Regions from separate parts of the Homo sapiens genome. Here all the other regions are linked to region 1. Evidence: fine-mapped expression QTL. A gene starts in region 1. Each other region holds a variant in brackets. All regions are shown on one strand. Distances are from middle to middle.

Region 1 (4,362 bases):
ATTTTATAGGTGAGAAAGCCGAGGCTCGGAGGATGCATGACTTGCAAGTGTCAGAATCAGAACTAGAATAGATCCCACACATTTGAACACCGAGTTTGGTGTCTTTTCCTTCACACCGCGTTCTCTGGGGGTGCCTGGGCGGTGACCCCTGCCATTGGCCTTGAGGATTAGGGCCTCAGCTCGGGTCCTCTGCAGAGCCTCCTCAGTCCCTAGCAACTTGCTGGCACCTAGCCGGGGCTAAACGCAGGTTTGTTGAAAATTATAAAAGGGTAAGCCCAGGGGTAGCTATTCACCATTCTGGGTTTGAAGAGCTCTGATGCAGAAAGGTGTATACATCCAGCAGGAATTCCACCCTACATGATTTATTATAAACGTGGTATTCTAGGAGCATTCGCTCAGCCACGGAGAAAAATGGGCCTTTCGAAGAAGCTGGCCTTCGCGGTCGCTGTGGGGCGGCAGAGCAGGCGCAGGCGTCCAGGCAGTGGGGGCTGGGTAGGCGCCAGGAGACCTTCCCGGACCAATCCCCGGGCCCAGAGAGAGCGCCTGGAGACCTTACCTCCCCAGGAAATTCACACAGATTTCTTGGGGGCTTCACACCCGCGCCCCCAGTCCCGCCATCTCCTACGCCGCAGCAGGCGCCCCCACCAGGGTAATAACCCACTCTGAGAGTCTCTGGTGGTGCCTCTGATCCTCTGCTCTTCTGTTCCAGGCAGCGTTTTCTCCGAGCGGCTCTGGAGACTTTGGCCTGAGTTTCACCCTCACTCGCCGACTCATGTCCAAAAAATGCAGTCCAGCCCCGAAAGAGAGCCGCGCCTGCTGGTGGGGGTAGGGGGTGTTGGAGCGGCCACGGAATATGACTGAGCGCCCGGGGCCCGTTGTGAGGCCGGGGCCAGGCTGTCCCAAGGCACCGTTCCTGCCCGGCACCAGCACACCTGCCCAGACAGGGAGAAGGTCGGAGCCTCCCCTCCAGTCCTTCCGGATTTTATTGTTCAGAGCGACTTTAAAACGCAAATCGGGCCGGGCGCGGTGGCTCACGCCTGTAATCCCAGCACTTTGGGAGGCCGAGGCGGGCGGATCATTTGAGCCTAGGAGTTCGAGAACAGCTTGGCCAACATAGTGAAACCCCGTCTCTACTAAAAATGAAAATTAGCCGGGCGTGGTGGTGGGCATCTGTAGATCCAGCAACTCAGGAGGCCGAGGCAGGAGAATCGCTTGAACCCGGGAGGCGGAAGTTGCAGTGAGCCGAGATCGCGCCACTGCACTCCAGCCTGGGCGACAGATCGAGACTCCGTCTCAGAAAAAAAAAAAAAAAAAGGAAAATCGAACCAGCAGCTTGTTTGTAACAGCCAAACATAGGCAACAACCTAAATGTCCTTCAGTAAGGAGCTAGGTAATGAAGAATGGTGAAGCGCACGATGGCGCGCAGTGTGCAGTGGATGGGAAGAACCAGGTCTGTTCAGGAGCACTTGTATGGAAAGACCCTCCAAGATATAGTGAGTAAAAAAACATGTTGCAGAAAAGTACTGCAATATCGTTTTGTAAACAATACGTTTATGTAAACACACACACACAGTGTTAAAGAGAGATATTTGGAAGGACACACCTAAGAGTGGGCTGGGGGAGTGGAGGGAAGAGTGAATCTCAATTTTTACTCATTTTTTGAATTTTTTATTTTTAGTTTTTTAGAGACTGGGTCTCACTATGTTGCCCAGGCTAGTCTGGAAGCCCTGTCTTCAAGCCATCCTCCTGTCTTGGCCTTCCAAAGTGCTGAGATTACAGGCGTCAGCCACCACTCATTAAAAAAAAAAATTGTATACCTACCATATATGCATATATTACCTGGGTGACCTTTTAAAAATATGCTTTATTTTTAGAACATCTTTAGATTTACAGAAAAAGTGTGAATACAGGGAATTCTCATAAACCCGGGCTTTTCCTATTATTAACATCTTAAGTCATTTTTATATCTCCGTGGGTTCCTCTTGGCTGTGACAGTGTCCTAGACTTTCCTTGTTTTTGATGACCTTGCTAGTTTTCAGGAGTACTGGTCATGTATATGGCAAGGGCCTCAATTGATTTGTGATGTTTTCCTCATGATTACAGTGGGGTTAGGTGTTCTTGGGAGGAAGACCACAAGCGGTGCATGCAATCAGTATGATTTACCCCTGTCGAGGTCACCTTGACGGCTGGGTGGTTTGTCAGGTTTCTCCACGATAGTCACTGACCGCTCCCTTCCTCACATACTGTGCGTGACCTTCCCCCCTCCACCACCACCGAGTGTTGCTATAAAGGAAATGCGTTTGACCTTTTCAGTGTAAAAAGTTTTCTCGACCTTAAAGAGAGTCACTAACCGACGCACACGGGGCTGGAGAGGACTTAGGAAATGCCCACCCCTGCAGGAGGGCGAATGCGGCTCTGCGCGGCACTGGGCGCCGCAGGGGTTAGGGGCGGCAGAGGGACCTCCGGAGCCCGAGACTTCCTGGAGCAGCTCCGCAGCCGGAAGGCTGCTGCTCCTCGCGGGCCCGCCGTGCCCAGTCCTCATCTTGGGGGCGGGGCCGCGCTCAGGCCCCGCCCCTCCCTTGCACTGCCTCTGGCACCTGGGGCAGCCGCGCCCGCGGAGTTTTCCGCCCGGCGCTGACGGCTGCTGCGCCCGCGGCTCCCCAGTGCCCCGAGTGCCCCGCGGGCCCCGCGAGCGGGAGTGGGACCCAGCCCCTAGGCAGAACCCAGGCGCCGCGCCCGGGACGCCCGCGGAGAGAGCCACTCCCGCCCACGTCCCATTTCGCCCCTCGCGTCCGGAGTCCCCGTGGCCAGGTGAGTGAGGGTCCCGAGCCGGCTGGGGGCCTGGGACCAGGCGGCGGCAGTGCACCGCGGCGCCGCGGGTGAGGCCCGGGGCTGCCTGGCGCCCAGCCCAGCGCGGCCCTGCGGCTTCCTGGTTGCACTACAGGCGTGGGGGTGGGGGGCAGGGGAGGGCGTCGGCGGGTCGCGGGCGGGCCGTGTCGGCCTGGCAGCCCCCTAGATCAGCCTCGGCGTCTGGGGCTGCTCCCTCATGTGTGGTCGGGGTGCACTCGCCGTCCCCCCGGGCTCAGGGGTCGGGGTCTCAGTCTGGGCCTGGGTAGGGCCAGGGGCCGTGACCCTGGGCGCAGGAGGCAACGGGTGGCGGGAGGGGTGCCGGAGGCCCGGCCCCGCAGCCCTGCGGAGCCCTCCAGGGTGCGCGCGCCCTTCTAGGCGAGGCTTGGGGAGATTAAGCAGAGAAGGCTATCTTCAGGAACTTTCCTCCGAAACTGGGAGCACGCACATTCCTGGGAGCTGCTACCATTGCAGTTTATTTGTAAGGAACTCTCCCCAGTGTTTGAGGGAATGCGGGAGCCATCCCAGGTGCTGTGCGTGCCTTCGCCCCTTCCCCAACCTTGATCCCCAGTTTCAGGAAGGGATTCCTGGACTTGTATCTCCCATGGGTGCAGGCCAGGCCCTTAAGACTTAGGTAAAATGGTCTGTTGGTTTAAAGGAGACACGCGAAGTTTGTTACCTAGAGACTTTGGAGGGGAAAAGTTAAGCCAGCCAGTGCTAGCCCAAGCTGGAAACAGTCAGCCCGGGGCATTTCTGTCTCTGCCCTCCAATCCTTGACCTCTCTGTAGAGATTCGGCGTTTGTGGTAGCTCTCCCCTCTGTTCTCTGCGCTGGGCATGGAGTGGAGCTGTGAGGCCGAGCCCCTGCCCTGCCCTGCCCTGCCCTGCCCACGCAACAGGGACTAGGTTTGCAGGGCAGGGCCTGGTATGCTCACCCTTCACTGGCTCTCATTGCTTTCCTCATTCCTTTTATGCGGCAGTCAATTGTTGGGGATTCCAGGGGATTAACAGGGCCCCTTTCCTCAAGGCATTCTTTGTGCTGCAAGGTGTTCCCTGATAAGAGAGGCCAGGTGAGGTGCCAGGGCAGTTTGTTGCCCTGGCATTGGGTGCCCACTACTTCAGGCTCCTGCATACCTTGCTATCTTTTCTTTGACTATTGTCTGTGCTTTGGTTTTTCATCTGTAAAATGGGGGTAATAGTAATCCCTGCCTCACAGGCTTGTGAGATTCAGTGCATTCATTTATTTAATAACAATACAGAGCTCAGGTACGGACCAGTCAGAACAGGTGGTGACTGCTGCACCACACTTGTGTATCCCAGATGGGTGTCACCCACATTAGCCATAAAGTGTGTGAGGCAGGCCTGGGTCATAAATAATCAGGTGTAAGGGTCAATAAATAGTAGCAGTGGAAGGTTCAGCTAAAGTTGAAATGCACTTCTCCTGAACCGTCTTTCTGGCTTAGCTCATGCTAAGCTCATGCTCTCTGTCTTACTGGAATGCCCTCCCTCCCCTGTCT
Region 2 (4,362 bases), 360 kb before region 1:
TTCCATCTCCAGCAGAGAGAATGTACAGTGAAAAGGAGGCCGAGCATGACTAGCTCCAACTTACTCCTAACCTCCCGGCCCCTGCAGTGATATCTTTTAGGTTAACTGCTTTTGCTTACCTCCGCACATAGGCCGAGCTAACAATGGGAGGAATTTAGTGTATAGTTTAACTGTAAAGCAAGGATGATAATAGCCCCTCCCCAAAACGAACCCCCCAGGAGACAAAGAGGGTGTACACACAAGTAACGATGTCATGTTAAAAATGTATAAGAGCATTGTGACCTGACCAAGGACAAAGAACTTTACCCTCGCTGCCACCCAGATGTCCATAGTCATTGCTCACCCTTTGATCTCAACCCCCCCGCCTCTTCCCCCTTCCCTTAACATAAAAGAAACCCAAAATTCATATTAGCTTAGGAGGTTCTTTAGGACACTAGTTGCCATCTTCTCGGTTCGCTGGGTCTCCGAAATAAAGTTGCTTTCCTTGCCCCAACGCCTTGTCTCTCAACTTATTGGCTGTTGTGTTGTGAGCAGTACAAGCTTTGGACTTTGCTACAAGAACATCAAGGGACATTGCAGCACTCTCTGAAGGAAGAAACTTGTGTCACTCCCGGGCCAAGGCAGTTAGGAGATGGTGGGCCCGCTCTGCACTCTCTGCCTCATGTCCACTGGCTAGAAACAAGGAATCAGGTGGTGGTGTGAGATGAAGCAGCCTGGGGCCCTGAGTCTCCCAGTCCCACAACAGACCGTGACACTAGCAAGAAATAAACCTGTGTTAAATTCAGCCACTGAGATTTCTCAGTTTGCCTATTGCAGCAGATTCCGCTGATTACAGGATTAAAATAAAAATGTATCCCAGAAGCAGGGTGCTGCTGAAACAGAAATATAAACTGTGTTACTGCCTTAGCAGTTGGGTGGTGAGCGATGTTTAACAGGCTAGAGATCCATGTTATGCAGCAGCAAAACATTCAGTTAAAAAGCTAGACACTGTAACTTCAAAAGCAGACCCCATGCTTTCTGAACTTTTCATTCTAAGGGAGGAGGTTGAAAAATAGAACATTAGGAATAAGTGTTGGTTGCTAGTGACTGTGTTTGGCAAGGTGTTAACAGAAAGAAATGAATTCAAGAAAGAACTGAGTGCTTTGCAAGCTGAAAGAAAGGGAATAGAACAAATACAGAAATTTGAGATGTTGTAGGATTGAAAAAGCATCTCTTCATATACCAGGACCGACATTGCAAGAGATGGGATTTTTAAAGGTTTTGTATGACAGAGCACAGGAAAACTTCTAAGGTGAATAAAGTGACGAAGGGCACACAGCACCTGCAGGTCAGGCTCTGTGAAGTTCTTATGGTGACCATGAGGATGTGCTCCGTCCACCTTCAACCACAAGGAGCATCACTGACCAAGCCCCGCAGCTCCTGTGCCCTTGCGTTTGCCCAAGGCCCTGCTTCCCAGAGGCTGCTGTTAGCCTTTTATTGAGGATGCTAGGCTCATTCCCAGGAGACACCCACCTCCTTGCCGAAAGATTGCTTTCCCTGGACTGCACAGCTGCCTGCAACACCTCTGCCCACTGTCCCTTGCCCTCTCCTTCACTCAAGGTCAAGCTTACAATGACTCCCTCAGCCTCCTCCAGCTCCCTGCCCTTTTTCTCTCCCAGACATTTCCCTTAATAAAACCCTTGCATGATTAATCCCATCCTGTCTGTACTCCTTGGAGAAACCAGACTAACATAGCCACATTAAGAACGTGATCTCTCATTGCGCCACTGCACTCCAGCCTGAGCGACAGAGCAAGACTCTGTCTCAAAAAAAAAAAAAA[G/AG]TGTGATCTCTCACACTTATTTTTAGAAAAAGCTTCAAGGAAGATGTCCTTCAGGTGAAACAGAGAGGCACAGAGATGAAGGGACAAAGGAAGAATGTCGAGTTGAGAAATATGTCTAGGAAAGAATTTTAGATGTTGTTACTGGGACATGGAAGCGAACAGAAGCCCCCTAAGTTTTTGAGCCTGGATTAAAAAATCTTTGGTTGTTCATGACTTAAATGGCCCTTGGGCATCCAAGTTTGATGACCAGCAGGCAGGTTTCAAAGGCTACACTGGTCTAGAGGGTGTGATCCTCAACACTCCCTTCAGAGGAGGCCAAGGGGAATCAGACAAAAAGCCTCATCCAGGCTGAAGTCAGTGTTCACTCAAGGAATTCTCTTCACTGCAAGGCAGGGAAACTTTGCGGTCCTGACCTGTAGGACTTCAGAAATGCTATAGACTGGAGACTGTGGCTCTCACGTTCTCCACTTTTCCAGGTGGCATTTCCTTAGTGGGTATTCTGACCCTGCTCCAGCACTGTATATAGTGCCTTAGGGGTGACAGGTATTTAAATGATATGTCTTCTCAGCACATTCAGACCTGATAGAGACCAGTGCAGAACCCCAGAGACAGTGGACTTTCAGCTGGATGCAGTGACTGGCTGGGACCTGAAGGTGTCCCCTATAAGAGGTGGTGAGTGTATTTTAGATGGAGGAGAAGAATGAAATGTGTGGATGGCCAGAATGACAATTTAGGACAGTGACAATGCAATGTCCACCACCCTATGTCTCTTCCTCAGCCCACAGATGACTGACTACATTCCTCAACTTCCCTTCAGTACAGTGGGACCATGTGATCGAATTCTAGTCCACGGAATGTCAGGGAAGGGATTTGTGCCATTTTCAGGCTAAGGTGGTTAGCAGCGGGTGTGCCTTTTCCACATTTTCACTCTTGTCCACCCAGCTGGAAATAAATGGTGGAATTTCACGGAAAAAAAGCAGCCTGATCCATGATCCAATATTCGAAAGCAAGCCACACAGAAGAAATATCCAACCCACATCAAACTGTGAAATAGTTAAGTAATAAACCTTCATCATATTAATCTACTGAAATTTCAGGTTTTTCTACATGCGCAAGACAGCAGTAATTCTCCAGATATATATAGGAGTGCATTGCTATTTTTAAGTATGTTACAAGCAATATATAGTAAAGAAACACCGATTTAATTATAACTGATAGAAACAGAGAGGCAACCACTGCTTAGAATTATAAAACTTTCAAATTAATAGTGGGTAAAAATAAATGATAAGAGGATTACCAATCCTGCTAAGCAAGGGGAAAAGATAAAGCAGCAAAAAATGGGTAGCTATTACAGCAGACACTGCCAATTAACTACCCACCCTCCACGCTTGCCTCACCACAGAACCCCAAGTTGTTCAGGGAGCAGCAGAGATCCCCCCTCTTTTAGGAAAGGTGAGTTTTGACCCCAACCTCAAAGGACAAATAACAATTGATTTGGCAGGGCGCAGTGGCTCACGCATGTAATCCCAGCGCTTTGGAAGGCTAAGGTGGGCAGATCACCTGAGGTCAGGAGTTCCAGACCAGCTTGGCCAATATGATGAAACCCCATCTCTACTAAAACTACAAAAATTAGCTGGGCATGATGGTGCATGCTTGTAATCCCAGCTACTCGGGAGGCTGAGGTGGGAGAATTGCTTCAACCTAGGAGGCAGAGGTTGCAGTGAGCCAAGATCACGCCACTGCACTCCAGCCTGGGAAACAGAGTGAGACTCGGTCTCAAAAAAAAAAAAAAAAGAAATTGATCTAATCCCATCAGGTAATATTATTCTCATTGGCAAGTGATTCATCTATGAGTGACAAGATGTCCCCATTTCTGACAAAGAAGATGTAGGCAGACGTTCCATGTAAAGGGCTCTTCTTCTCCAAACAAACTGGATAAGTCTTCTTAGGAGAAACCCCTTCCCTCTTCACTCTTTTTTTTTTTTTTTTTTTTTTTTTTTTGAGCCGGAGTCTCGCTCTGTCACCCAGGCTGGAGTGCAGTGGCGCGATCTCAGCTCACTGCAAGCTCCGCCTCCTGGGTTCACGCCATCTTCCTGCCTCAGCCTCCGGAGTAGCTGGGATTATAGGCGCCCAACACCACGCCTGGCTAATTTTTTTGTATTTTTAGTAGAGACGGGGTTTCACCGTGTTAGCCAGGATGGTCTTGATCTCCTGACCTCGTGATCCGCCCGCCTCGGCCTCCCAAAGTGCTGGGATTACAGGCGTGAGCCACCACGCCCGGCCACTCTTCACTCTTTTACCCGACCTTCTTCTTCCTGCCAGGAATGAAGCAGTGATTCCTGGAGCCACTGGAAAACTTTTGCAACCATGAGGATAAAAGCCACATGCTAAGGATGGGGAGGCAAAAGATAGAAGGGAAGGGATCCTTGGTGATCTTATCGAGCAGCTAAACTAGTATTACCCATTGCAGCACACCCCCAGATTTCTTGTCATCTGAGAAAAATAAGGAAATTTAAGAAATAAAGTTCTTCAGTTGGGTGTGG
Region 3 (4,319 bases), 48 kb before region 1:
AGGATATTCCCCCACCCCAGAAGCCCCCCTCGGACCCTTCCCAGTCAACACTACCCAAAGGGTAACCCTGCTTCTGTGTCCAGCAAGGCAGTATCTGCCTGAGTTTGAATAGTGTATGAGGAGTCACACCTGGTATACCCTGGGGTGTGAACTGGTCCTCCAGGAAGCGGACACCCAGAAAGATAGGACTGCAAATGTTTCTAAAGGGAAACACTGGAAATGAGAGAGAGAGGAGGAAGCATGGGACATGGAGCATCAAATATGGTAGAGACTTTTCCAAGATATCATGGCCCAGGAGACTCTTCAAATTTCAAAATTATCCTGTAAGGTAAAAAGATTTCGGTTTATTTCCAGGTGACCTTCTTTTGCCCAATATACATTTTGTCTTCTATGAAATATCTGTGCCCCTGCTGAATACTTCTGTGTGTGGCCATATCTGTGTCTGTATGTCATGGAGAATAATTATCCACAGATCACAGATACAAATCTCAGAGTTTAACTGTGTATGCATTTTTAGGATCTCTTCATCTCGTAAGGATCTGAATTCTAATCTTGGAGACAGGGGCTTTCCCTTATCTTTTGAAAGAGAAACTGGAAATCCCAGAGCCTGAGCTGCTACACCCTAAGGTTTATTAAATGAACTTCAATGAACACCTTTTGCTGATCTTCTGAGTGGAAATATTTTCATTTAACCAGCGGGAGGGGTGAGGCTCTACCATCTACCAGCTATTTTGCAAGATGCCTTCCTTATGAGCTTGGTCTCCCTGTCCTCACCATGACCTCATAATCGCATCATTCCCAGCTCATTTCTGAGAAAGCTGGGGCTCTGAGCTCTACTGAGAGTTGGTGTCTGGGCTTAGGCAGCAAAGACACAGGGAAGGGGAAGCATTTTGCCTGCCAAGGTTGGGAGATGCAAAGCTGAGAGTTGTGGGTGGGAAGGAGAGGGTGCAGGAGATCAGAGTAGGTCACAGCAGCTCAGGATTGGCCTTGAGTTTCCAGCCAGAGTTGGCCTCATTCTGAAGGCCAAGGCCGCAGCTCCACTGAACCAGACCCATCCTCATTGTTAGTCTCCTTAGGCCGTGAAAACTCAGGGAGACAGGTTCCCCTGACAGAACCAAGTTAAAATTTTCAGACCTCTAGGCATTCATTCACCCCGATCTAGAGCCTTCATGCACCCAGGGAAAGAATCATCTTCCTACCGATAATGGACTAAAGGCTGTAGGGCAACAAGGAAGTGCTGGGGTGGTAATTTCCTGTGCACAATGTGGTATCTGAGCTCCCATGGCAGCTCTGTGTGGCCCTCACCGCAGCCTCCATGCTCCTGCTCACGCTGCTTGCCTGGCTAGGAGCAGCCTTCCAGCTCTACCTGAGTTCAACAACCCCCCATGTCACACCTCCCTGCTTCAGCTTTCTCTTCCACAGCCTCCTGTTTACTCCCAGGAGATTCTGTCTCCTCCTTCTGCACCCTGTGTCCCTTCACTTGTGTTTCCATTGGGCTGGTCAGAAGCTCTGTGCCCTTCAGTGTGGGTCTCTCTGCTGCAGCACACAGGATGCCCTGCCAGCCAGGGATGGGTCTCATCCCTCACAGAGCTGGCCATATGGCCCAGGTTCCACACAAGCCTGCAAAACTTGTATTTCTAGCTTCTATAAATAACCTCTGGCTGGGCACAGTGGCTCACACTTGTAATCTCAGCACTTTGGGAGGCCAAAGTGGGCAGATGGCATGGCTCCAGGAGCTTGAGGCCAGCCTGAGCAACATGGTGAAACGTGGTCTCTACAAAAAGTTAAAAAATAAAAATAGCCAAGCATGGTGTTGCACACCTGTAGTCCCAGCTACTCTGGAGGCTGAGGTGGAAGGATCACCTGAGCCCTGGAGACGGAGGTTGCAGTGAGCCAGGAGTGCACCCCTGCACCCCAGCCTTGGTGACAGAGCAAGACTCTGCCCCCACCCCTTAAAATGAAAAAAAACTCTTTCCTCATCTACAGAAGATACCTTCTGCCAAGGTCATGATGAGGAAATAATGCAACTGACTTGTACTCTCAGAAACTTGAGCAAAGTGACCACATCCTCAGCCAGTGCAAAGCCCTGCAGTACAATCTGTAACATTTCTATTCATTCAGAAAGGGAAAGATGAATCCATTTTGCAACTCAGTTCATACTGTTCAGATAAATATACCAAGTAGTACATGTGGAGGTCGTGGTCGAGGTCCTACAGGCAACAATGGGTAGGGGAGCTGGTTGAGGTCCTGGAGGAGTTCAGATAGCAGAGGCCAGCCAAGTGGAGGAGGTGGCAGATGTACTAGAGGAGACCCTGGTGGAGGAAGTGGCTGAAGTCCCAGGG[A/G]CCACAAATGGAGATTATTGAAGTAACCGAGGAGATTCATGTGAAGGTGGTTATTGAGGGGCCAGACGCCACCCAGGTAGAAGGGGTGGCTGAGGATCCAGAGGTTACTAAGTGGAGATGTAGTCGGAGGTCCCAGAGGCCTCACAGAACAAAAAGGTAAATGATGTCCTAGAGGAAGGCAGCTATAAAAGATGGATGAGGTCCTGGAGGGAAGACACATGCTGGACGTGGATGAGGTCTGGGAGGACCAAGAGCTGTAGGAGGTGGATGAGGTCCCGGAAGACAGACACATGTAGCATGTTGATGAGGTCCCAGAAGACTTACAGCTCCAGGAGGTGGATGAGGTCCCAGAGGACCAACAGCTGCAGGAGGTGGATGAGGTCCCAGAAGACCTACAGCTGCAGGGTGTGGATGAAGTCCCAGAGGACCAACAGCTGCAGGAGGTGAATGAGGTCCCGGAAGACCAACAGCTGCAAAAGGTGGATGAGGTCCCGGAGGACCACCAGCTGCAGGAGGTGGATGAGGTTCCGGAGGACCACCAGCTTCGAGAGGTGGATGAGGTCCCGGAGGACCGACAGCTGCAGGAGGTGAATGAGGTCCCGGAGGACTGACAGCTGCAGGAGGTGGATGAGGTCAGATGCATGCCGTGGGTCAATGAGGTCATGGAGGACCAACAGGTGCAGCAGGTGATTGAGGTCCTGGAGGATTGACAGCCGCAGGTGGTGGATGAGGTCCGGAAAGACAGGCAGCTGCAGTAGGTGGATGAGGTCCTGGAGGACTGACAGCTGCAGGAGCTGGATAAGGCCCCAGAGAACAATCGAGTGGAGGAGGTGGTTAAGTTTTCAGGGGACTCTCTAGTGCAGGAGGTGGCTGAGTTCCCAGAGGACAGTCGAGTGGAGGTGGTTGAATTCCCAGAGGACTCTCCAGTGGAGGAGTTTGTTGAGGTCCCAGAAAACCTTCAGATGGAGGGAGTGTTTGAGTTCCCAGACAACACCCAGGTAGAGGAGGCGGCTGGCAGCCCATCAATGGTCCTGAAGGGCCAGCCATGACATCGGGCAAGTAGGGCCATTCTGAGAAAGGATGAGGCTTCCCTGTAGCCACATTGACCTACAAGTCAGGAGGAGAAAATGTTTTGAAATATATGAATATGATGGACACAAAAACACCAAAACCAACACAAGCTGCACCTTATGCCTCAGGTGATAGTCCCTTGCACCTTTCCCTCCTCCAGGTTTCAAAATGGCAGCATCAATGCCATAAAGTGTCCCTTCAACTGAGTCCTTCCAACAGCAGGGGAGTGAAGAAAAGTCGTGGGGACAAACTGCTATCCCCACACGCCACTCTGTCTGCAAATGTACGCAGGCTGGGGCCTGTCCCTGGGAAGACAGAGTCATAACCCAGTAATAAAGAAGCATGTTTCTGACACAGGGGTGTCTATGTCTATCCTAATTCCTCCCTCACCATCATCACCGGAGCATGTTCCTTGCATCAGATAAACAGAGAGAAACAGAAGCATGAAAAGCCCATTGTCCACACATGAGTCACAGCTACTCTTAAGAGAATGGCCTCCAGGCTTTTCATGTGCTGTCTCTGATTCTCAGAAATCTACAAGGTCAGTGTGACCACCCTGCTCCAAATCTAAGAAAATAGAGGCTCCAGAGGAAGGAGAAATTTCACCTAGCATCACACAGCTTGCAAGAAGCAGAGTGGAAGTCGATTCCAGCTCTGCCTGCAAGACCCTCTCGTCCCCCTTCTGCTTCCCTTCTTGACAAACGGTCTTCTCTACTTTGGAAGCGCCATCCATGGGCACAAAGAGCTATGGGGAGATGGGGATTCCTGAAGAGCTACAGGGGAACTGGGAGAGGGTTTTCTGACGGAATAATCTTACCTAGAGATAGCAGTTTGGCACGGTTATCATATTTCTTTAACTTCTAGGTAATACCAAATTTTAAGTGCACTATGACATAAAGAATAATT
Region 4 (4,362 bases), 31 kb after region 1:
AAGATAAGAGTGGGGTCAGGCCAGGCATGTAATCCCAGAACTTTGGGAGGCTGAGGCGGGCGGATCATCTGAGGTTGGGAGTTCGAGACCAGCCTGGCCAACATAGTGAAACTCTGTCTCTACTAAAAATACAAAAATCAGCCTGGTGTGGTGGCAGGTGCCTCAGGTGCCTGTAGTCCCAGCTACTTGGGAGGCTAGGGCAGGAGAATTGCTTGCACCGAGGAGGTGGAGGTTGCAGTGAGCTGAGATTGCGCCACTGCACTGCAGCCTGGGTGACACAGTGAGACTCCGTCTCAAAAAAAAAAAAAAAAGTGGGGAGCAGGCTTGAAACTATTTCAGGCAGAGAATGACAGAGGGAAAAATGAGGCTATTCTTTCTAAGAACGGAGGACTAGAGGTATATCTTGGGGAGAGGGGAAGACCCAGGGTCGCAGGACCACAGCTCACAGTGGGGTCGACCTGCCCTGTGGGGCCATGCAGGGCAGAGCTCCTAGCCAGGAGGCAGATTTTGACTCCTGCTGGGAACTCCCTTAAAAGCCACCCCAAGAATGAGCTCCACGAGCGCCATCAAGGCTGGCCTGCAGGCCCTCCAGGGTTACCAAGGCTGCCTGGAACTGAATGGACCCTGTGTGTGTTCTTTTAGTCTTGGAAGACCAGCCAGGACTTTGGGGGCCAGACGGCTAGCCTCAAGTGAGCTCAGAAATCTGCACCTGAATTGGGCCTTTTTAAAAGTTGTTTAATGGCCAATACATACATGCAGCAGAAATGCACAGGGAACAGATCTAAACCGGAAGCCTCATTTTCTAGCCCCACCTTTCCTCTCGAGAGGCAGCTAGTGTTAGCTAGTTTCTTGTGTGTCATTCCAAGGATGTCCGTGCACGTCTACACTCAGGAACCACTTAGTTTGTATGTTTCTGGGTTTTTTATTAGCTTAGTACATACACAGTACTGCACCTTGATTAATAATGGTGGTCATTGCATCTTTCCATATACAGAGCTGGCTAAATCCAGAAATAGCTACAGAGTATCCATTGTTGGATCTGTTGTGGTTTATTTAACCAGCCTCATTGGTGGAGGTTTAGGAGTTGTTGCAGATAAGGCTGTAGTAAAATTCATGTCTGTATGACATTTCACACAGGTGTGTGTCTGGGGAAGAGACTTACAGAAGTGGAGTTGCTGAGTCAAAGGTATGTCATTTTAAGTTTTGATATCTTTGTATTTTATTTATTTATTTATTTTGGAGACGGAGTCTCGCTCTGTCACCCAGGCTGGAGTGCAGTGGCATAATCTTGGCTCACTGCAACTTCCGCCTCCCAGGTTCCAGCCATTCTCCTGCCTCAGCCTCCCGAGTAGCTGGTATTACAGGCACCCACCACCACGCCTGGCTAATTTTTGTATTTTTAGTAGAGACAGTGTTTCACCATGGCCAGGCTGGTCTCGAACTCCTGACCTCAGGTGATCTGCCCACCTCGGCCTCCCAAAGTGCTGGGATTACAGGCATGAGCCACTGCGCCCAGCCGACATCTGTGTATTTTTAATTGGTGATTTCCTCAGCACATTGGTGAAGGTGAGCATCTTCAGCTCCTTTTCTGTAACTGCCAGATCTGTTCACATCATTTGACAGTTTCTCTAGTGGTTATTGATCTTTTTCTTATTATATTAATAAAACTTTTTTCCTAAGTTTTTTTCTCATCTTTATTTTTTTTTAATTTGTCTCTTATGCTGAAATTTTATTTATGTCGTTGGTTTTTGGGGCTACTTCTTTCACTGCATTATTTGGCCTGGCTGGAATTTACTTGGTATAAGGAACAGGGTGGTATCCAGCTTCTGTTTCTTGGGTTTTTTCCCTGGCCTGGCTGTGGATGGAGCTTTTGGCTTCATTTCTCTGAGAGGAGGCCAGGAGTGGAGAGTGTCTTTGGTGCTCAAAGGTCCTGCCTAGTGGTGTCTCCAGAGAGGAAGGTGACAGAGACACCATCCCGGCTCTTCCTGCTCACCTGTCGGGCAGTTCCTTCTATTAGAAGGTTCCTGGCCTACTGGTCATTTACATCCCCCAGATTACCTCCTCACCAGTGAAGTCTGAGGGTTTGGCAGAGTCTGGGCAGAAGGGTCAGGCTGGGGCCGGGACGGGGAGGGCTTTGTACTGACAGCCCACCCAGCCTCAGGGACACCCTCTCTGAAGGTGATGCCACC[G/A]GGGACCTCATCCACCACGTGCTTAGGGGCTCAGAGAGACCGAAAACTGCAAGGAGTAGGTCCTTGGTCCACACTACAGGGAGCCAATTCCAGCTTTCTCCAAAGCCATAGGGCTTTGCCTACGGTCACCTCTGGACCCACTGACCCAAACAAATGACTACACCCGTAGGGCTGAAAACCAGGCCCACCCTATGGGGACCGGTGGTACCTTAAGGAAGTTCTTTAGCTTCCTTAAAAACAGCATGTAGGCTGGGCACAGTGGCTCATGCCTGTAATCCCAGCACTGTGGGAGGCCGCAGCGGGCAGATCACTTGAGGCCAGGAGTTCAGACCAGCCTGGCCAACATGGCGAAACTCCATCTCTACTAAAAATACAAAAATTAGCCAGGGATGGTTGCGCCCTCCTGTTGGAGGCTGAGGCACAAGAATCCCTTGATCCCAGGAGGCGGAGGTTACAGTGAGCTGAGCTCGCACCACTGCACTCCAGCCTGGGTGATAGAGTGAGACGCTGTTTAAAAAATAAAAGTAGGCCAGGCATGGTGGCTCATGCCTGTAATCTTAACACTTTGGGAAGCCGAGGCAGGCAGATCACCTGAGGTCAGGAGTTCGAGACCAGCCTGGCCAACATGGTGAAACCCTGTCTCTGCTAAAAATACAAAAATTAGCCAGACATGATGGCGGGCGCCTGTAATCCTAGCTACTTGGGAGGCTGAGGCAGGAGAATCACTTGAACCCAGGAGGCAGAGGTTGCAGTGAGCCGAGATCACACCATTGCACTCCAGCCTGGGTTACAGAGTGAGACCCTGTCTCAAAAAAATAAAAATAAATAATAAAAAAACTTAAAAAGAACAGCATATACCAGCCTCGGCAACATAGTAAGACTCTCAAAAAAAAAAATTAGCTGTGTGTGGTGGCACATGTCTTTAGGAGGCTGAGGCGGGAGGATTACCTGAGCCCAGGAGGTCCAGGCTGCAGTGAGCCATGATTGTGCCAGTGCACTCCAGTCTGGGTGACAGAGCGAGACCCTGTCTCAAACAAACAAAACCCAATATGCCCAGTTCTTCAAGATAGATATGAAGGGCAGCTAGACTCTTATAGTTGGATAGCGTGGCTAGAACAGTGGTCTTCAAAGTGAGTTCCCTGGACCAGTAACATCATCTGGAAACTTGTTCCAAATGCAAAAACTGGTTCCACTGTCTCAGAAACTCTTGGTGGTGGAGCCCAGCAATGTGTTTTAACAATCCCATCAGGTGATTCTGATATGCATTGCAGCGTGAAACCCAGTGTGTAAAAAGAAGCCACATACTCGAGACGAGCAGGTGTGATTGTTGAGGGACCCTGCAGGTTTCCTCACATGTCCGCCTGCCATTGGGTGTCTCTGCAGACTGCAGCAGCAGCTGCTATTAGCAAGAGCAGGCAGGTTGCACAATGTGGCTGGTGTCACAGCAGATCTGTGTCCCTCCTCACAATTTAACTGGCAGGGGACATTGCCAAGGGATCCGTGTTCAGAGGGACTTCGTGAGAGCAGGTGTCTCACCTGGCACCTGTCCAGGCTGCTCTTCCTCCCTTACTGACAGATCTGCAAATCACTTACTTCTCTTAATCAGCAGCCTCTACTGCAGAAACAGGGTGATGCTGCCTCATTTGCCCTGGTTCTTCACCCTGCATCAGATGAACCTCCTGAGGGCCCTTTTTGCTTCTAGGAACGATGATTCCATACCTTACCAGGTCCCCTTGCCTGATGAACCAGAGGTTGGAGAATGAAGAGAGACAGGGGCCTCTGACTTCCCCTGTTGCTGGAGGGATGGCAATAAGGACACAGGAAGATAAATAGACAGACCTGGAGTCCTGAGAATGAGGCAGTGCGTCTCTACCTCTGAGGTGGGAGAACAGGCCCAGAGGCGCACTGCACCCTTGCCAGCAGAGGCAGGAGCAAAGCTTCAGTGAGAGGGCCTTTCAAGGAAACTGGCTCATGGGGAGTGAATCCTGTCACTGTGGGTGGGGCCGGGGGTGTGGCCCTGGCCCAGAAGTCAGGCAGCATGCTGGTGGGTACTGTTTCTAGCTGGAGGCACCAGCAGGAGACAGTGAACTGGTCTGCGACAAGCAGGGCAGATGCAGCAGTTTCTTCTGCAGGGTCCCAGTTGTGGTGGTGGCTGCCCTTTCAAGAAGCTGGG
Region 5 (4,362 bases), 77 kb before region 1:
CCTCCCCTGTGTAGTAACAGGGAGGAAAAACATTTCTAACCATGAAACAAATAGATAATTATTTTTAGCAAGAATCTAACGTTAAATGTCATAGCAACCATAAATAGCAGAGGGTTGGACCAGCACATGGCCTTTCTGATGCTTGATCTCATTGGGAACAAGGAGGTCTTTCAAAGTTCTTAGGTGAATCTTCCAGACGGGATGCAAGAGCTTGAAACACAGGTAGCTGCCTAGATGGTTATAAGCTGCATCCTCATTGTAGGAGCCTTTGTTGGCTGCACAGATACCTGGCTTCTTCTCTTGTTTTCTTTCCTAGTTTGTGGTATGATTTAGGTTTTAAAATAATTAGTGTCCCCCATTTAATAGCAACAGGAAGGCAACATCTTCACCAATTGTTTTTCAATAAATCAATGGCTTTCCTAAGAGACATTAATGTTAAACTAAAGTACTGAAGCCCTGGCTCCCATCTGCATAATTTATTGTGTCTGAAGACTCATGTAGGCTGAAGATCTTCACCTTTATTTGTGGGATAAGTTGTTTGGCAGGAAAACCTTTGCCTGGCTTGAAGCCTGTGGCACAGTGGCAGAGTCATGGACTCTGGAGTCTGGAGGGGCCCCAGGGTGATCAGGTCCAGCCTGTTCATTTTAGAGACAGGATCACGGTACCCTCTGCATCAGGGCCTGGCCAAGGCCATGGGGTAGGGTGCCCCAGTGTGAAGACCAGAGCCTTGCTCTCCTTACTGTCATTGTCATGTCTTGTCCACTGCACAGACCCATCCTTCCCTCTCTGGTTGCATCCTCAGCCCTGTATTGAATACTACAGGGACTCATGCCCCTCTGAAGGTAGATTCTACCCTTATATCTTTGTAAATATCTGGAGAGAAGGTTGGCCTGCTTTGATTTTTTTTGGTCCAGATCCCACTCCCTAAAGCCTGCAGTGGAGGTTTAGCAATGTGGGGGATGGGGGGTCACATGTGTGGACTACCTTCTTTATGACAGCTACATACAACCATCATCTCCCTTTAATCCACATAGCAGTCTTATAAATAGCTTTATTAAATAGATGAGGGAACAGAGACTTAGAGGGGTTAAATAAGTTGTCCAGGATCACAGCTTATGACTGACTCTTTCCAAGACAGCATTGGAAGATGCTCAGTGCTTGGTGCTGGGATTTTTTCTTTTTATTGGCGTTTCTATTTTCCTTCTGGAATCCATTCCTCGTAAGGCCCCTCCTGTGTCTTTTCTGTCTGCACTGTGAGAGGTCTGGGAATGTGAGCTTCCCTTTGCTGGCACTTGGCTGCTAACTCTCCTCGCTCCCCGCTCCCTTTCAGAGACAGTGTGCAAGACCGGCATGGTGCTGCTGTGTGGTGAGATCACCTCAATGGCCATGGTGGACTACCAGCGGGTGGTGAGGGACACCATCAAGCACATCGGCTACGATGACTCAGCCAAGGGTGAGGGCAGGCCTCCGGGTCTGAAATCCCTGTTGCTCTCTGCTGATAGAGACCCCAGTGCTGAGTCAAACCCGTGCCTTTCAGCCCGATGGGAGCATCAATACTACCAGGAGGAAAACACTCCTACACTTGTCTGTCAGGTTCCAGGGGTCAAAGACTCTGGCATAAGGATGGCCAACAGGCGACTATGCCCAGTGGGCCCAGCACATGCCCATCTGTTGTTGATTGGGCTTGTTTTAGGCCTTGCCTTCTTGGCGCTGCCAAAGGCTTTGGAAGAGAAAGATGCACTGAATAAAGGGGGCTGCCCTCCTTTGGGGACATGCTCGCTGCCAGGCACTGGTGATAGTCTCTTGTGTTGTCTTAATCATTTATGTACTTATGCAGACGAGGAAATGGAGGCCTAGAGGGGTAAACAGTCTGTGTGAGATCACAGGGTAAGCAGCCACTAGGCTGAGGACTCCTGTGCTTCCACTAAACCTACTTGCAATCATAGACATGGAGCAAGATGACTCAGTCCAGAACTGGTGCTGACAGCAGGCGAGGCTGGTCCAGGTTAGCACCAGTGCTACATAGTGTGGGGCCACCACCCAGGGAAGGGGCACAGGCCCTAGCAGAACTTTGAAGCAGATTCCAACATCTGAGACTGAGCAGGCCAGGCAGCGGCACAGCCTGGAGGGCAGCAAAGGACCCAGAGAGCAGACACCAGGTGCGGAGGGCCTGTATGCGATCACATTCTGCAGGAGCTTCAGGGGCCCTTTGTCCATGCTGGCTTCCTGGGCAGGGCTCTGGCCCCAATTCTTAGAGTCTCCACGTTGGTCTCTGGCATTAGATGTTCAGGCAATTCTAATTTTTAAAGAAAAATTCATTTTGGGTCTCTGTTAGCTCTTTC[C/T]CTAATTCTCTGAAATCACTGTGAGAGATGTGATGACCTCACGCCATGGCAAAAAGACCCACTTCCAGGTCATCCTGCCTAGCTATACACCTGTAATCAAGATGCACAGAGAGAAGCATGACTTTAAAGGTGTTCATTTCTGCCTGTGTCACATAATCGTTGTCTAGGGTGATGTGTAGCATCCTGTGGGTCAGGGTGCTGGACCCCCGTTTGTAAGTGAGAGAGCCCACTCATGGTATGATGGTGCAGACTCGCAGAGGTTCAGTCCAGCCATGGCCTGGTGCAGCCCAAAGCACTCATGAGCAATTAATATTGGTTGAGTGCATGACAGTGATTTTGAGACTCAGTGGGAAGAGAAGCAGTAAGAACCAGTTAATTCTCCTGGTCGGGACATGAGGGTATTCACAGAGGAAACACATTGTCCCAGAGCTGCAGCTTCCTGAGGCGTTACCACACGGAGCCTGTTCTACCAAAAAAAAAGCCAATTTGTTTATGTACATTTAGACCTTATTCAAGTGCAAAACTTTTTCTGCATTAGGCAGGAGGGAAATTTTCCAGGAGGCAATGTTCCCTAGAAAGGGAGAAATGAGCGAGAGCCCAGCCGTGGCTGAGTTGAGCTCAGCTGGCTGAGGTTCCCTGTGCCCAAGCTTGTCCATTTACCTGTGCTCAGTGGACAGGAACAGCCTTAGCAGGGTCTCAGGCCAGTGGCTCCTCGTTGCTCCTGGCTGCGGTGTTGCTGGGCTCATTGTCCTTTCCAAGTCCTGTACCTCCCCTCTTGGTCCCCTAAGTTCTGTTTTTCCAAATTCCTTGGAGCCCTTGCTTGATTTTTGAGCCCTGGGGAGATTCATTATTTAGACAGACAGTGATTAGGTAAACTGAAATGTTCAGTGCAGAACAGGACAGCTTTTGGCAGTTCTTTAAAGACTGTTCATTGATTTGTGCATTCAAAAACATTCATTAGGAAACAGGAGGGTGTAAAGGGCAAAGGTGACCTGATACTCCCAGGGTATATGATGCAACATGAGGTGCCCTGGGGTAAGTTCCTGGCATTGTGTCTAATGAACTGCAGGCAGGTCCAGGGACATGCACTGAGAGTGGACGTGGGGTTTGGGCATGTGGGGTGGGAGCTGGAGGTAGAACGTTCTAGGCAGGGACCTAGTGGAGATGGAAAAGTATATCATGCTGATGGCTAAACTTGAGTTCATGTTGGCTCAAGGAGTCCCAGGAGCAAGGGCTGTGTCAGACTGAAAAGCTTCAGTTTTATTCCTTGGCAGTAGATCCCCACCTGAAGCTTGTACAGAAACAGCAGCTTGGATCTGTGTGTTTTCTCTGTAAGCCCTTTCAGGCTGTGTGGGTAGGAGAATAGATGGGAAGGAAGATGGCTGTGGGGGTTTGGAGAGTGAGTGTGTCACTATGCTTGACCTTGTGGTGGGGGCGTCCATGTATTCAGTCCCTTATTCTCACAGTCCCTGTGACTGAGCCCAGCACAGCTGTGAGGAGGTGCGCACGGTCTCGGTGCATAGCAGTTTCCTCATGGGACTCCCAGGGCTGAGCTACTGCTAGTCCAGACTTCCCCAAACCAGTGCCTCGCGTGCTAGGTGTAGCAGGCCTGCACCCTGTGCCTCAGCTTTGTAGATGGGAAAGGGCAGGTGGCTTTTCCATTTGCCCCAGACTCTGTGTACCTCTCAGGGTCAGAGGACCCTGGCTTGGGGAGTCTGTCTGGATAGTTCATGTACACTGTATTTGTTCAGTATGTTTAATAGTTGTGTCAGGCATACAGCTGGGCTTCTGAGTGACAGTATCAAAAGGGCTCTTGATTTTCTCCTAGTGCAGTGATGCTCAAACTAGATTCTGGGAGGCACCTGTGGGAGAGCCTGAGGGGCAGGGTATGAGTCAGCCACCGTCCTCAGCCAGAGGAGCCTTGGCATCACCTTGTTTTAATCTGCAGGTCTCTGTAGGATGTGTGTGTGTGTGTTAACCAAGGTCTAATTGAGCACAGTAAAATGCACCACGGAGAATT

Alleles and levels. Alleles are on the strand shown, and positions count from the first base shown. SD is a standard deviation of normalised expression in the study named. Not every link is listed here.
In carriers of allele AG in region 2, the expression in whole blood of the gene that starts at base 2,617 in region 1 tends to be lower than with G alone (large effect, 0.82 SD a copy in TwinsUK).

Evidence for each region. PIP is the estimated chance that this variant, and not a neighbour inherited with it, causes the effect.
Region 2: its variant is the best candidate, but not a certain one, in a credible set for the expression of ANXA11 in whole blood (TwinsUK, PIP 0.77).
Region 3: its variant is the best candidate, but not a certain one, in a credible set for the expression of ANXA11 in whole blood (TOPMed, PIP 0.76).
Region 4: its variant is the best candidate, but not a certain one, in a credible set for the expression of ANXA11 in whole blood (INTERVAL, PIP 0.84).
Region 5: its variant is the best candidate, but not a certain one, in a credible set for the expression of ANXA11 in whole blood (INTERVAL, PIP 0.55).

The regions. Positions count from the first base shown.
Region 1 is chr10:80,203,792-80,208,153 of GRCh38, reverse strand. It overlaps ANXA11 (annexin A11), which reads left to right and starts at 2,617. Exons shown (of 16, transcript NM_145868.2): 1 at 2,617-2,811. LINC00857 (long intergenic non-protein coding RNA 857) reads right to left here and starts at 444. Exons shown (of 2, transcript NR_038464.1): 1 at 1-444. RefSeq lists enhancers at 336-977, 8-1,207, 978-1,619, 4,259-4,338 and a silencer at 2,394-3,273.
Region 2 is chr10:80,565,549-80,569,910 of GRCh38, reverse strand. The region is part of intron 1 of SH2D4B (SH2 domain containing 4B); the gene reads right to left. Among named protein-coding and RNA genes, the nearest start is that of SH2D4B, 30 kb to the right of the region's middle. The variant G/AG (reference allele first, on the strand shown) is at 1,820.
Region 3 is chr10:80,251,414-80,255,732 of GRCh38, reverse strand. LOC100130698 (a long non-coding RNA gene) reads right to left here. Exons shown (of 6, transcript NR_136612.1): 6 at 325-3,449. Among named protein-coding and RNA genes, the nearest start is that of MAT1A, 36 kb to the left of the region's middle. RefSeq lists an enhancer at 1,847-1,966. The variant A/G (reference allele first, on the strand shown) is at 2,343.
Region 4 is chr10:80,172,931-80,177,292 of GRCh38, reverse strand. ANXA11 (annexin A11) reads left to right here. Exons shown (of 16, transcript NM_145868.2): 2 at 1,138-1,186. Among named protein-coding and RNA genes, the nearest start is that of ANXA11, 30 kb to the left of the region's middle. RefSeq lists enhancers at 1-368, 369-870. The variant G/A (reference allele first, on the strand shown) is at 2,190.
Region 5 is chr10:80,281,007-80,285,368 of GRCh38, reverse strand. It overlaps MAT1A (methionine adenosyltransferase 1A), which reads left to right. Exons shown (of 9, transcript NM_000429.3): 3 at 1,331-1,453. Among named protein-coding and RNA genes, the nearest start is that of MAT1A, 6.5 kb to the left of the region's middle. The variant C/T (reference allele first, on the strand shown) is at 2,343.